Linked DNA regions of Homo sapiens: region 1 is linked to region 2. A link means that fine-mapping ties the variant in region 2 to the expression of a gene that starts in the linked region. Tissue or cell type: breast. Region 2 holds a variant in brackets; the other region holds the start of a gene. All regions are shown on one strand. Distances are from middle to middle.

Region 1 (8,103 bases), 180 kb after region 2:
GCCTATTGCCTGCCCTCCATCCCTTCCAATAATGATCTGCAACCCCCAGACATGCCGTGCTCTCCCACACCTCCGGGACTTTGACACACCTGCTCCTCTCTCCCCGGCACGCCTATTCTCCCTCTCGCCTGGCGAGCTCCAGCCCATCCTAAAAGTCTTAGCTATTAAAGCACTGCCGCTCTCTGTAAATGCTCCTGACAGTTCAGTTTTGCAGCTCAACAACCTGGGTTCAAATCTCTGCTCTGCCATTGACCACTGTGACTCTGCTCTGGTCACATGCTTGCCATGTGACTGTAGCAAGTGACCTAACCTCTTAGAATTCTACCTCAGTGTGGGGATGAAATGGGATGATGCAAGGAAACTGTTCAAAGCAGTGACAGGCAGATACTAAGCATTCACTCTGCACTGCTGGGATCTTGCCTGACTTCACAGGCAGAGTTAGGCAGCCCTGCCATACCTCCACCACCCTGCATGGCCACTGCTCAGGCCTATTGAGATGCCTGAGTAGTCTCTGGGCAGGGTCTGCATTGCCATCTTTATACTCTCAGAATCCAGTCCCATCCCCAGACTTCATCATATGTAACGTATGAATCCTTTTCTGGGTATATCACAAGGCAAACACCCAATGCCAACAGCCAAACAGCCACAGCTTCTGGAAAAATGCCTAAGAGCAAAGGCTGCTGTTAATATATTACTTAAAAAGAAGAGGATCCCAACCTGCAGCAGTGTAAGAACCTCTGCCCACACCTCCTGAGTGCTGTCCTGCTCCCCTGAATCAGCAGTTTCCTTGGTACAGCACCAGAGAGCCGCACAGAAGCTCATGACAGACCCCAAACCCATCCAGCCACAGGCAGCAACACCCCAAGTGGCCTCTAGGATTGGGAAGCGTCAAATAGGATCCAGAGGGTTTCTGAGGGTCCGGTTTAGGAGAATACTTTGATCTTCTTGGAAGAGGCAACTACATGCAAGGTCAGAAAGGACTTTAATGTTGTGAAAATCATATCCAGTTTCAGTTTCTCAACTGTGGCACAAGTGACACTGGAGGCCATATAATTCTTTGTTGTGGCACCGTCCTGTGCATCGTAGGACGTTTAGCAGCATCCCTGGCCTCTACCCACTTGATGTTACCTACAAGTTGTGACAACCAACAACAACAACAAAATTTCAAAATTATCCAGGTTTGGCCGGGCGCGGTGGCTCACATCTGCAATCCCAGCACTTTGGGAGGTAGAGGCGGGCAGATCACCTGAGGTCGGGAGTTCGAGACCAGCCTGACCAACATGGAGAAACCCCGTCTCTACTAAAAATACAAAATTAGCCAGGCGTGCTTGTGCATGCCTGTAATCCCAGCTACTCTGGAGGCTGAGGCAGGAGAATTGCTTGAACCCGGGAGGCGGAGGTTGCGGTGAGCCGAGATCGCGCTACTGCACTCCAGCCTGGGCGACAGAGCAAGACTCCGTCTCAAAAAAAAAAAAAAAAATTACCCAGGTTTGGTGGTGCACACCTGTAGCCCCAGTTACTTAGGAGGCTGAGGTAGCAGGATTGCTTGAGCCCAGGAGTTCAAAGTTACAGTGAGCTAAGATTGCTCCACTGCACTCCAGCATGGGTAACAGAGTGAGACCCTGTCCCTTAAAAAAAAAATTTTTTTAAGACTCAAATAGGAGAAATTTTTAAAGAATTTTTTTTCAACTTGCAGAACTAGCTTCCTGGCATCTTCCAAATATTTAGCTTTGATGGGGATGTCTTGCCTCTTTTCTTTTGAACACTCATCACGGTAATAATTGATCTAATCACCAAAATAACCAGGAGTTTCATAAAAAGTATGACATAGCATGCCAGGTGTGGTGGTGCACACCTGTAGTTCTAGCTACTTGGGAGGCTGAGGTGGGAGAATCACTTGAGCCCAAGAGTTCCAGGTCAGCCTGAGTAGGAAACACAGTGAGACTTCATCTCTAAAAAAAAAAATTTTTTTAAAGAATATGACATAGTGAAGCTGATTTCCAATCTTAGCTAGCCTACTAGGATAAACACTCATTCTTTATTTATTTATTTTATTTTTTGAGACTGGGTCTTACTTTTTCACCTAGGCTGGAGTGCAGTGGAGCAATCTCAGCTCACTGCAGCCTTGACCTCCCAGGCTCAAGCAATCCTCCCACCCCAGCCTCCCAAGTAGCCGGGACTACAGGTACGCAACACCACTCCCAGCTAATTTTTTTTTTTTTTTGGTAGAGATGGGGTTTCACCATGTTGCCCAGGCTAGTCTTGAACTCCTGGGTTCAGGTGATCCTCTTGCCTTGGCCTCTCAAAGTGCTGGCCACTTTGAGGTGTGAGCCCACCACACCGAGACAAAACATTCATGCTTGCCTTTCTTCCCTCCAAACCCAAAGATAATCTTTGAGTCTAACTTCTCGCCCCCAGGATAGACCTCACCCAACGCATACTGCAAACCAGGATCACCTCTAAGGACAATTTTTTTCTCATATCAAGTTTCAGAATTACTTCCCAGTTGCACAAACTGCATTCCCATCTTTTACTCTAGGTTTGCAGATGCTCACAGAATCAAAGGTCACACATTTTAAAAGCTAAAAAAACCAGAAGGGCACTTCTGTCTCTAACTACAAAGACAATGGATAATTTGGAGTTGACGAAAGCCACAGAATGTGTCGAAAAGGCAAAATAATAAAAATAATAAAAAGATGAAAATAGAGAAAGTCTCATAGGCCTTTCTGAGCACACAAAATGGTTAATTTCTGTAGAGTCAGTGTGAGCCATTTATTAATTATTTTTTTCCAGTAATTCAAGGTAGTGGTCAACTACCACTCTTCATAATAACAGCTGCTGCTTTCTGAGTGCTTAAAACATGCTGGGCCCTGTGCATTATTTTATCTAAATATTGCCACTACCCTTTAAAGTGGGTACTATTACCAGAAGCTGAGAGGCCCTTGCTGGTCTGAGAAAAACAAATTAGTGCTAGAAACACAGGTGATTAATTTCTGTTATTTCTAATTTCCTATATTATAACAATGTTCTTGATAAGAATTTGTTGAAATTGGGTAAAAAGTCTAGTGGTTCGAGGTCGGGTTGGGGGGGCGGTTGGGGGAAGGGGGTGGTTCTGAGGCCAGACTCACTTCGTGTCTTGGGAAGGTACCACCTCTGGAAGCCTCATATTCCTGCTCTCAGGAATGGGCACAGCGGTGGTACCTACCTCAAGGGGCTGTTGGGGAAAGTATGGCAGGTAATTCTTTTAAGGGGCTTAGGACAGGGCCTGGCACACAAGATTTGCTTATTCTATGTCAGCTATTATTCATTATAAACTACTTTAAACTCTTAGCCAGGTGGAGCCACTAGGGATTTCTGAGCAGGCGGGAGCAGCGGGGAGGGGGGCGGCGAGATAAATGAGGGCCTCCAGGTCCCAGCTGGAGTAAGACCCCCACTTTATTTCCTCTTCCTAACCACCCAGCTCCTGGGGCATACAAAGGGCTCAAAATACATATTCTCTGCATGCACAGTATCTAGACCCTCTGGCATCCTCCTCTTCCCCCACTCCCCCATGCCTCACTCTGTCACCTGGCCTCGCTGTGGGCTCAGGGGCGCAAACCCTGCACGTGCACTGCCCTGCAGCCGGCGTTACACAATCCGCATTTCTAAGGCAGCCGTGAAACCTGTGTCGCTGTAGGCGGGGGACCGCAAGTTGCCGGCGGGTACCTGGCTGGACAGCATCCTGATTCAAGTGTTTCGACACGGAAGGGGCGCAAGGGCACGGGAGCCGGGGCAGGCTGGGGAAAGGGAAGCTGAAAGGCTGCTGGGGGAGGGGAGTAGCGGAGCGAGATCTTGGGGACGGCGCGGAGGCGGCGCGTGACACGGAGCAAGATGCTATCTGGGTGGGCGAGCTGCAGTCCTTCTCCAGGAAATGGGGGAAACAGGGCTGCAGGACCCCAAAATCCTCTCGGCACTGCGAGGGGCGCCTAAGGGCTGCTGCGGGCGCAGGGGGTGGGGAGGCGAAGTAGAAAGAGGGTGCAGGTCCCGACCCGTCCTCACTCTGTCCCCCGGCTTCAAGAGGCTGGCTGGACCCAGGAAATGGGGCGCCGGGTTTCGGGCATCTCAAACCTATCCAGGCAGCGGGAGGTGGGGGCAGCGCCCGCGCGGGGAGCGGAGTGGAAAGGCAAGTGCAGATCGCCGACTCTTTCCACTCGATGCGCCGCTGCAGGGAGACACTGGGGGAGAGGTCACGGGGCCATCAGGGCGCCCCATCCCCCTAGGAGCGCACCACCGCCCGCCCGCCCGCCTCCGCTCACCTGACCAGCCTCAACCGCCTGGGTCCCGCCGCCGGGCCCGGACCCCGGCCCTCGGTCTCTAGCCCCGGGCTGGGACCTGCCGCCGGGCTCCTACCCGCGCCGCTCCCAGCTCCGGCGCCCAGCCCAGCTGGACTCCTTAAAGGCGCAGCGTGCCGGTTCGCGTCCTCCGACAGAAAAGCCGCCCCGCCCCGACCCGGCGCCGCGCGCTGTCCCCCAGCGGCCGCGCTCTGTTTGGGGGCTCCGGGGCGCTTATCCCCAGTTCCTCCGCGCGCTGCCTCACAGCGTTAAACCCGGAGGGTACAGTTAGCGTCTCGCACAACCCAACGCCGGCAACTGTCTCCTAGCACCCGAAAGCCACGGCGAGAGCAGGATCGCCTACAGAGGTACCGGGGGCGGAGCCCGAGCGCCCGGTCCCGCCCCCGCCCCCGCCCCCGCCCCCGCCCCGCCCCGCCCCGGAACGCACACGGTGGCGGGGCGCGGGGAGGGCCTCTGAGCCCGCAGAGCCACACACAGTTCCACATCCCCGGCCCGAATTCTTCCCGGCACTGTTTCACTTACTGAGCACCTACTGTGTGCCTGGCGCGGCTGGGCATTAAACCCGCCAAAGTGACTCAGGCAGGATCTCTGGATCTCTGCCCCGAAGGGCATCAGAGAGAAAGGGACAGGCAGGGGTTCTCAGGCAGCAAAGCAACACTGCTTGACATCGGTTGTCTCACGTAATCCTATGAGGTAGGCACTGGGGTCGACTTCTTTTCTCAGAAGACACCGAGGCTCAGGGAGGTGAGGGGCTTGCCCTGGATAGTCCAGGAAATGGGAGAAATGGGGGCGCAGGAGCCCCCAAATCCTCTGGACACTGCGAGGGCTCCACCCCAAGGAACACCGTAGGCGCTCATGCTCCCGCCCTGGCTCTCGGGTGTTTGGAGACAGTTGCCGGCGTCGGGTTGTGCGGGACGTCAGACTGTAAGGACTGAACTGGGAATTCCAACCGAGGATCGTCTGACTCCAAAGCTATACGGGAGAAATGGGCACCTGGAAAGGCCTTCGGCCACCTCTGGTTAAACCCCTGCTATGGTCGTTTCTTTCTTTTAGGGACAGTTAAACCCCAGCTTGGCCTGGCTACTCTTCCGTGTTTTCCATGTCTCAGTTTAGCTGCCACTTCCTCCAGGAAGCCTTCAGTAAGACCCCTTTGGGCTCACACTGCACTGTGGGCTTCTTTCATCAAAACATGTATTCGTTCATTTAACAGATATTTACTACACCTGTTAGGGGCCTTAGTGGCACCCAGATCTTCCTGCTGCACTGAGTGCTTGGCCTGCCACTCCAGACGTCAAGGGGCCAGGGCTCAGCAAGACTCTCTTGGCCGTTTAAATCCCCCACAAAGGCAGCCTTTGGGCCTCAGCCTGCCAAGGCCTCCACGCTGGTGGAGCCTGGCTGAGTGGTGCAGGTCCTGGGTTTTAAGAATAGGACACAGTCAAGAAGTCCCGGAGAAGTGGCAAAGGGGCATCTCTGAAGCCACTAGTGATCCCCATGCCTGTAAACCCTGCTCTGCAGGGCAGCTGGAATTCATCCGGAGTTTGGGACAGTCCCCCTGGCTTGGGCTGGAGCATTTTCCTTTAAATTGTTGGCTGCCTTATCACTTAGACTTCAATGGCTGCATGTGATTCACTTCAGGGAATGGCCCCCGAGTTTCAGTGGCAATTTATTCACCAAACAGCGGGTTGCTCAGTCCCACCTCTCTGGCTTTATCTCTCCTTACGGCTGAAGCAGAACCTTTCCAAGCCAGCAGTCCACCAACATCCCCAGAGCAGGTCCACAGAGATAGCACAAAATGTGGGGATTAAATGTCCTTCAGTCACTACTGGCCACCTATTGGATTAGCATCTTGGACTCAGGAACATTCACCAAAACAGGAGTCCAGGGGGTGAATAAATAGACAATGAAATTGATGAATGACTTCCTGGAAGGCCCCAGCCTAGAAGCCATCAATACACCTGGTATAAAGTTTAAAACAATTGCTCCTTAGTCTTTTAATTTTCCCTCTCCAAAACCTTAAAAATGGGTAGTTCATCAGTTTGGTGGGTTTTTTATTTAACTCACAGCCTGTGACCCTGGGCGTCTCCAAGGGCCTGGAATTTCTATATCCCGAGGGTTTTTTTCCCTCAGAGTTTTATATTTAGAAACACCTTTTTGAGCCCCATGTGGGAGTCACATTCTGGGTGACTTATCTCCACTGGATGGCTGACAGGAGAGAAACCTTATTAGCTCCAGTTTTACAGTGAAGGAGGCAAGAGGAGATAAGGGAACTCACCTCCGGCCCCTCCCTGAGCCGGTGATACCCCTGAGTGCTGTCACTGAGGAATCCCACCTAGGTGGGAGACCAGGGAGCAGTCCCAGGGGCCTGGTACTTTCCAGATGGCACCTTTAGTCATCCCAAATAGAAACTCCTTATCAGTGGACAGGTCTCACCCTAGCATTAAGAAAGAGTTTTGAAACCTTTCCTCTGCCAGCAGTTGCAGCAGAACACTCCAGGATTCACTCTGCCATGAAGCCTGTACATGTCTCCTGGATGCAGCAGCACAGCTATCAGAGCTGAAGGATGCCATTATTTAATGCGCACTTACTACCTTCAGCCGCAGGGCATCAAATCACTTAGTCCTCACAACACATAGTGAAATATGCTCACCTGTGAGTTATACTAACCCACTTTACAGACACACCGAGGTACAGAGGGGTTAATGGACTCACTCAAGATCCCACAGCCAGCTTATGGCAGGGCCAGCGGTCAAAGGAGTTCACTCATTCATTTATGTAGCAAACATTACTGAGAACCTACTACATACTAGGTACTGTCTGGATGAACAGAGACACACTTCTTGCCCTCAAGGACTTAGAGTCTATTTATAATAATAAAATATTAGAAGCTATTTAATCAGGGAATCACACACAAGCTGTGAGGGAATCACACAAAAGCCATGTCAGCACATGGAAATGTGTGCAGGAGAAAAGCAAAAAACACAAGATACCATGTGTACACAGACACCAGCTGGGCAGCACCCCTGAGCTTATGAGTCATTCGTACCATCTATTCCCCAAGCATTTGCTGTGTGACAACTCTGAGCCAATCCCTGAGGCCTCTGCCCAATCTGGAACTCCAGTATCACTGCCTCCCAGCAGCCTTACCTGACTATCCAGGCAAAATTAATTTTTCCATCGTCCACACCCCTGTAGCACATTATACATGACGATATGTTTATTTATTTAGGCAACTCTCAACTCCACGGAGTTGTGAATTCCTTTTCCACTTCCATCTCCCCAGGGAAAAGCATGATGAGTAGCACAGAACAGGCAAATGTTAATTAGCTACCATGTGTTGAGCTTTTCCTGTGTTCCTCACCTTGTGCTCAGTGCTTTACAAGCATTATCTCATGGATTCCTCCCAACCACTCTGTTATTAGCCCTATTTTACAAATGAGGAACATTTTGAGGCTCAGAGAGTTTCTGAGCCTCAAATCTACCCAAATGTGTTAAATCACCTATCCAAATATCTTAGTCTGTGTGTGTGTGTGTTTTGAGAGAGTCTCACTCACTCTGTCGCCCAGGCTGGAGTGCAGCGGCACGATCACGGCTTACTGCAACTTCCACTTCCCCAGGTTCAAGCAATTCTCCTGCCTCAGCCTCCTGAGTAGCTGGGATTACAGGCATTTGCCACCACACCCAGCTAATTTTTGTATTTTTAGTAGAGACAAGATTTCCCCATGTTGGCCTCTTAGTCTGTTTTTGCATTGCTGTAAAGAAATAACCAAGACTG
Region 2 (8,100 bases):
CAGGATAGGTAGGAAGGAAACCTTAGACTGTGTGAATCTATTCTTTGCTAACAACAGACGCTACAAAAAGTTCTCATTTGAAATATCTTGTCAAGCTACAGACAACACGTTTTCTTGACATGATTTTAATAAAAAATACAGCTGACATAACAGATTACATGAAACTATACACAATGACATTCTCTGCATAGTAACCAACACTGATGTGTGTACTTGAATTTTTAAATGGATTATTTATAATCCTTTAAAGTGCAATTTATTGAAAGGTTTAAGCAAATCAGGATAAAGGATCTTTCTAATAAATGACTAACATTAAAGAGATGCTATATTGATATATTTAGATAAATCTTTCAAAAATCATAATTGATTTCTATAGATGCCAAATTTACTTCTGTTGTAACAATGACCTGCCCCCCTCAAACCCCAAACTTAATTGCTGAGGATTAAGAAGATCCTCTAATTGGCAAGAGCTTTTTCTGATGTTAATATTTTTGTCTGTTTCAATACATCTAACTAAAAAGAACTATGGGTCTAGAGTAGTTGCTTTAGCAGCCCTGAGTTCTATAACCACAATGGTATTCCTGTTAGAACTTAAGAGAATGTTGTGAACGTTCCCCATTCTATTTGAGGAGAAAACAAAGAACTCAGTTGCTTTCTGATTTAGCAAAGTAACTATGCTTTGGGCTATAGTGTTAATGTCTAAGATAAAGGTAGCAAAAATTGGAGTTATCTAAGAATCAGAAAATGCTTTAGAGAAATGAACTGTAAGAGGAATGTTTCTAGGAGCTGTCTGATGGGGTAGAAGGGATTGCAACACAAAGGCCATTTACTGCTGTGATTGAATATTGTCATTGTTTTTCTGTCTATTTCCTTTAGTTGGTGAAAATATTTCAATATGCTGCTGTCCCAAAAGCCTGGCCATTAGAGGATAAACAAGACTCCTTTACAGGGTTAATAAAGGAGCAAGATCTTAAGGGAGCAATGCCAGCCTAACTTTATTCTGCTTAAAGAATTATTTCTCTCGAAAAGCTGCTTACATGAGCATCTGCAAAATAGTACTGTTTGTGGCTGTACTGGCTCAGCAATTACTTTCCCAGGAAGAGGGTAGTTTGGGGGGTAGGGGTGAGTAGGAATAAAAAAGAACTTTTCCCTCCAAGTGTAAACAGGAAGCTTCAGCCGATCTTCGGAGCACTGTGATCACAGGTTTTGGCTTTCCTCAAAGTTCCTTTTTGGAAATTCTGGATGGAGCTGAGCAAGGCCCCTCGGCTCATGCCATTCACAGCCTGAGACGAGAGCTGGGCAGGTGCCTCGGTGCTCGCAGGAGGCAAGGGAGCTGCTGGTGGTGGTGGAGGTGGAGGAGGTGGAGGTAATGCAGATATCCCTGTGGAGGAAAAGGGGGACAATCAGTATTCACCTCCACAGCTGCCCTGCACACACGCTGCTGCTCAGTCCTGAGCACAACGGACTGGTGAGAGTCCACATGTTTTTCTCAGAGGGACCAACATACCTAGTACTGTATGAGTTCTTAAAATACTAAAGAAAGCTAGAAGCATCAAAGGGGAATTAAAAGTTGCCATGTTTCTCAAACAATAGTCATGTTAAAGGCTGTTGGAACAAATAATTACAGATTACATGAAACCACATATGGTGACATTCTCTGCATAGATGAGGCTCTGACCCCATTTGCAAAGTAATAGTCCCCAAAGAAGAGTTCCATCTATCAGTTACTTTAGCCAGGTCCCAGGAAGCTCTGTCTGCTTCTGAGCTAGCAATTAAAGATAGACATCTGCATGATGGAGTTGGGCTTCCTGAATGTCAGTTATTCATAAGGGGTGAACAGTTCTTTCGCTGCTCCAACATACACAATGTTTGAAGGATGTGATCTTATGTAAAATGACAGACCACTCAGGATTCTCAGCAAGGAATCAGTGCCTCCTGGGTTATGCATTTCCCAGAGGAGTCTGTCTCGAATAATAATTTCCTATTAGGTTGCATTAAAGAAATATAAAATGCTAATAACTGTTAGCAATGCAAAGCAGGGGGCAGAGGGGTCTCTCTGCCATGGTATTCTTACAGAGAAATCCTTCTCAAGTACTGTTCTCTCCATTGTGGCCCAACCAAGGAACAGGACATAACTGCACTAAATGTCTTTGACGAAGCATCAGGAGAAACTAGAATGTCGTGCTGTACCGCAGTGGGCAAGGAGAGGGAAACTGGGCAGGTGTCTAAAACTTCCCTCAGCTTCCAGGCACATGGACATTTGCAACTCGAATTTTATATTTTAGAATCAATGAATGGTTCTCTCAGGACAGAATAAACACCCGAGTTCAGAAAAAGCCTTGCCTTAAAGAATGTTCCTGTGCCACAGTTAGTTGCCTCGTCTCCTGTGACCTTGCAGCTCTCTGAGACTCTGTCAGATGCTGTCTCTGTCCCTCCCAGGGCTACTCCAGGGAGACATTCTGCCAGGTGGTTTCCCCTACACTGCTACTGAGTTGTGATAAGTAACAGGTAAAGCTACCCTACTTAAGTTTGTATGGACGACTGGCTCAGAATCACCAACACAATACTCAGGTAAGTACATCCTTTTCACCAAGTGTGACAGGTATGGGTTAAAGTCTTACAATAGAAAATCACTTACCTTTCTTTACATCTTTTACTCAAACCTAAGGCAGCTGAAATTAAAGAATCACACAAATACACACGCTCATGCTCTGCAATCTTGGAATGCTCAAAGATAGCAATACAAATAAAGACTAAATACAGACAAATGACCAACATGTTCATTGGTTCTACACAATAACAACTGATGAATGAAATTGTTATGTTTTATGCTAAGGTGGATTGTGGGAAAATGTTCCTGGCTTTATGTCACCAGGTTACAGAGATAAAAAGGACTTTAAACCTGAAGTAACTGTTGAAGTGGGAAAACGGAGAATAAGCATGTGTGATGAGCATTCCTCTGAAGAGGACTTCTGGAGAGCAACCAGTGAAATACCAGGAGGAGGGGAGACCTCTGCTGAAGGTTTTTGGAACTGAGTCTCTTGACTGCAACACCAAGTGGGCCCGAAGGAGTGAGCTCTGCCCACTTGGGGGTAAGTAGGTGCCAGTGCCCTTCCCCAGCACCCTCCCACCCAATAGCCAGAAAAGGGCAGTGGAATCTGGACTTGATATTCAGGGCCACGTAGTGTAACAGAAGGAGCTCCAGGGTTTCTGCCTCCCAGGTTTGTGCTTTGACCCCCGGCAGAAGAATCACTGTGCAGTTAAGGACAGGCTCTCGGCTGCGGCGGTACTTGGGAGTTCTACTAAAGGCTCAGCACTGGCCATCTAGAGACTGACTAGCCCTCCAGGCAAGGATTTTGGGGGGCTGGAGACGGGCCTCAGGGCTGGGCTGAGGGGTAGGGGCTGCCATCTTGGCACAGAACAAAACTGCTTGGCCTCACAGAGAACCAACCCTTGGTTTTGGCGTCATTACCAGGCCCTCAAAATTAGAAGTGCAAATGCACCACCGCAGAGTTTGGGAGTTGAGGGTGGGGTTCAGTACATGGATTTTCCACTGTCCAAGTAAATGGACATGGATTTTCCACTGTCACTTTAAATGAGTCTCTTTGAAAATGTAGGTGGTGTCAATAAATACACTGTCCA[A/G]AGGGCTCCAGGGCTCCAGTAAAGCAGATGGAACGAAAGGACAGGCAGCAGGATCTCCCTGATGTGGCCTCAGCAGGCTGGAGCAGTCCGGTGGGGCTTGATGTCCCAGCAAGTCCACTTTTCCTCACTGGGCCTACAACAACCATGGTGGCTCTTATGTACAACCAGGGCAAGGAAGGCCAGACCCAGCTTGCCAGTTTGGAACACTCTGGAGGGGAGAGGAGGTCTAGGGGTCAGAAGGTGGAAACTGGAGGAGGCAGGAACACAGACCTGGGACTCGGTCTCACTCAGTCTGCCCCATTGATTGTTTTTGGCTTTTCCTTTTGGCCCTTTCCATGGTCCACAAGCTTCCTGAAAGGTCCGTTGGGGCTTCAGCTACAACACATGGCTAACAATGGAGGAAGAGGGGGCAGGGGCAACAAGGGCCAAATGAAAGTTACCATTTGGCCTGTGACAAACCTGGGAACAACTGCCTGCTGCCTGCGCGCTCTCCACCCCTCAGATGTGAATGAGGCCTTCCTGCCAAGAGACCTCCAATACCCTTATCTCCAGGCCACATATGAGAGCAGACCGATTCCATGTTAGACTTATGATACCTGAATTTGCACCCAGGAAGGGGGATGCTGCAAACAGCTTACCTTCAGTTACGACCAGGTCAGTCCCGATTTCTCCCATCTCACTTTCTCTTAGACAAAATCCCTGAGAGCCAACTACTTACTCTACCCACCCCAAAATCTTCTCCACCAAACCACACGGGAACCTGGCAGTCCAGCAGAGGCCCTGTCAGAGGGCAGAGAATGCTGCAGGGAGAGCGTAGGTCAGATCTAGGGAGGAATGCCAGGCCAGAAACCCCCTTGACAGCCTTGTGGACAGGATGTCTGAGGGTCCCTCCCTCCAGTTCCTTTTTTTCTGAGATGGAGTCTCGCTCTGTTGCCCAGGCTGGAGTGCAGTGGCGCGATCTCGGCTCACTGCAAGCTCCGCCTCCCGGGTTCAAGTGATTCTCTGCCTCAGCCTCCCGAGTAGCTGGGATTACAGGCGCGTGGTACCATGCCCACCTAATTTTTGTATTTTTAGTACAGATGGGGTTTCACCATGTTGGCCAGGTTGGTCTTGAACTCCTGATCCTTGTGATCCGCCCGCCTCAGCCTCCCAAAGTGCTGAGATTATAGATGTGAGCCACTGCGCCTGGCTCCCTTCCCCACCGACTCTTAGGCCCATGTTAGCAGCCAGCAGTGGGTAATCTACAGTCTCTCTAATTCTGAGCTCCTTTGTGGTCACATACAGGAAGGGAGGCCAAGTGGCCATGAGACCACACTAGGGTAACACCAGACTTACCAGCCACCCTCAGGAGAGAACCGAAGCAGGCAAGCCCCCAGCTCTCGGGAGAACCACCTTCTCCTTTGGCTTCAGGCAGGTGAGGAGGCTGTACTCCTGTCACAGCTCGAGAATTATAAAGGATGCTTACAAAAGAACTGTTTTTCCCTACCGTCAGTTATAAAAGCCAGTAAGTTGTCTCCCTGTAACTAAGAGCTCAAGTGCCTAACACTCTTTCCTCTTCATCAGAGTAACTAGGAATCAACATTTTTGCAGCAACGGGACTTTGAGAGTTATGGTTTCCAAAATTAAAATATACCAAAATGCCATGCAGTTGATTTGCAGGTTTTAGAGCTGTATTTTAAAACTGAAATCAGAGTGAAAATGAAGATTTTGAAGGTCATGATGAAAATGAAATGAATATAGATGAAGTCACTGGGTGCTTTTTAAAGATGCTGTATTTCATTTAAATATTCAGATAAGGAAATAGTCTCAAATCTGCTTTCCCACTTGTTCATCACTTCAGCAATCGAGACACTTTGGGTCCTATTTCACACACAGAAACAGAGCATCTTTAAAGTCTGAGAAATCAGCATAGTTTACTTTACCGAAAATTCACGTTCAAAATGGTGCATGCTCTACTGAAAACAGCAAAGAGAGAGAGAGAAAGGGGGGACACAAGTCATTATTCAGATTTTAGTGTCATTTAATCAAATAGTAACAGACAGTAAAATATTAGTCTGAATCACAAGCTGATTATTCTCACTTCGAAACTAGGATATACTCAAATTAACCACAGCACTGGTTTGTAAACACGATTGTGAGCCTTTTAAAACATGGCAAACGTATTTATAGAATAACCAATGAGTCGCTTTTTGAGCCACCTAATGAGTCACTTTCTTCATGTTCTTTGTCCTCTGAGCCAGTTAGATACTATTTTTATTTATTTACAAGCATGACGCTCACTTCAGAAAAGCCATGAAGGTTTTACCTCTGAAGAGCAGAATGGATATGAGGAGTGTGCTTAGTTCTATTATTAAACAAGGACAGTTGATCAAGATGGGAGAAAAATGAAAACCCATAACTTTTTTCCAAGCAAGTCTTCTAGAGTCTACAATAGATTTGTCTCTTTAAAGTTGGGAGGAGTGTGAGCAGGCCTAAGGCCAGAGATCCTGGGCAAGCATCCTCAAGGCGGAAGCACTGGGCCCCTCCCTGAGGCCCTGTGAGCCCCTCCCTAGAGGCTGAATTGGGCAGTGAAACTTACTTAAGGCCATAAAGCCGTTTTAAAAAGGAAAGCAAGGCAAATGTTTTTCTTGTCTTCTTTTAAACTGACTAGATCCCCAGCTAAATGTGAAGGATCATGCTTTGGTAAATCTCAGAGTTCCTAATGAACCAACTCTGCCCCACAGCCTTTTCCTGGAAAGGGGCTGGGAAACGGAAAAGAGGCCCTCCAGCCTTCTCAGTACCATTGTTCCCCAAGGCTAGCCAGAGAAACTTGAATCCCTCCTTCTCCAAGGTGGGTCACAGAAACAGAACCCCTTTTCCCCAAAGCAAGCCATCATACCTAAAAATATTACTCTCCCTCCACCTTTCTGTGTAAAAACTGTCCATAAAGAAATAACTTGGCTGGGTGTGGTGGCTCACGCCTGTAATCCCAGCACTTTGGGAGGCCAAGGCGGGCGGATCACCTGAGGCCAGAAGTTCGAGACCAGCCTGGCCAACATGGCGAAACCCTGTGTCTACTAAAACTACAAAAAAGTAGCTGGGCATGGTGGTGGGCGCCTGTAATCCCAGCTACCTGGGAGGCTGAGGCAGGAGAATTACTTGAACCCAGGAGGCAGAGGCTGCAGTGAGCCAAGATCGAGCCATTGCACTCCAGCCAGGGCAACAAGAGTGAAACTCCATCTCAAAAAAGAAAAGAAATCACCTGACCTACCTTGTCTGACTATAGGTTGTAAGACCCCCATTCCAGAGAGAGTCCTGCCCATACCCAGAAGGAAGGAATGCTGCTCAGAGAGGCTGAGAAGAATCTAGACAGACAGACTTGCTGGGTTTCCCCACTCAGCCTATTAGCATTAGATCATAGCCTTTTCTTCCAATCATATTTCCACACAGCTGTCCATACTTTGTTGAACCTAAGCATAAAAATGGACAATTTTCCCTGTACCTTTGGGTCTTCATTCTGAAGGCTCCTGTGTATACATATTAAATAAACTTGTATGCCTTTTCTCTTATTAAATAAACTTGTATGCCTTTTCTCTTATTCATCTGTTTTGCGAGTTGAATTTTAAGCAGACCTTCAGAGGGCGGGCTCCCACACCTCTTCCTCTGCAGATTTGAAACTTCCCTTTCTCTCCACTCATTCTTGCAAACTGGGTTTTCTACAAACTGCCAGCTCTCTCACCTCAAAATTATTGGTTAAAACATAAACTACAAGCAAGAACAGCTAGAATTATCTGATTGCAAGACATTCGTAGTTTATACCTGATAGTGCTTTACCGCTTATAAAGCCTCGCCATGTATGCCATCTATCTAATAAAGAGCGAGACGTCTTTTAAAAGCCTCAAAGAACAGAAATTATTTGTCCAAGGTCATAGCGGGAATGTGGCAGAGCTAGGACTCAAGCCCTGGTTTACTGACTCAACATTCAGGGTTCTTTTCACACCAGCCAACAACAGTATTTAAGAGCACGGGCCCTGCAGCGCACCCTGAAGAAAGCAGGCACTCAATACATCAATGGGGTAAATGAACAAATACAGAACAAGTTACACTCCTGGCTCTAGCACCGCCCTAACTTGTGTGACCTCGGTCAAAGTCTCTTAATCCTACTAGAGTGTCAGTTTCAACTGTAAAATGGACCTAAGCTGGAGTCCACTCACACTGGATAAGAAGGTATTCACGATGATTAACTGAAACAAGTGACCATAAAGCAACAGTGCCTGGCACAAAATAAGTGCTTCAAATATATTACATATAATTATTTTAAATAACAATTTAGGGTCCTCTGCTTACTCAGCTTTCCCAAAATACTCTTACAAACCCATTTTTTAAAAAAAGGGCTGGGTGTGGGTGGCTCATGCCTGTAATCCCACTGTTATGGGAGGCTAAGGCGGGCAGATCACTTGAGCCCCAGAGCTCAAGACT

Evidence for each region. PIP is the estimated chance that this variant, and not a neighbour inherited with it, causes the effect.
Region 1: ABHD6 starts here. The variant in region 2 is fine-mapped to the expression of ABHD6 in breast (GTEx, PIP 0.97).

Annotation. Positions count from the first base shown.
Region 1 is chr3:58,234,109-58,242,211 of GRCh38, reverse strand. It overlaps ABHD6 (abhydrolase domain containing 6, acylglycerol lipase), which reads right to left and starts at 4,420. Exons shown (of 10, transcript NM_001320126.2): 1 at 4,296-4,420. RefSeq lists silencers at 4,179-4,668, 4,679-4,848 and an enhancer at 4,070-5,009.
Region 2 is chr3:58,418,033-58,426,132 of GRCh38, reverse strand. PXK (PX domain containing serine/threonine kinase like) reads right to left here. Exons shown (of 18, transcript NM_017771.5): 18 at 6-1,381. The coding sequence ends at 1,173. Among named protein-coding and RNA genes, the nearest start is that of PDHB, 12 kb to the left of the region's middle. The variant A/G (reference allele first, on the strand shown) is at 3,643.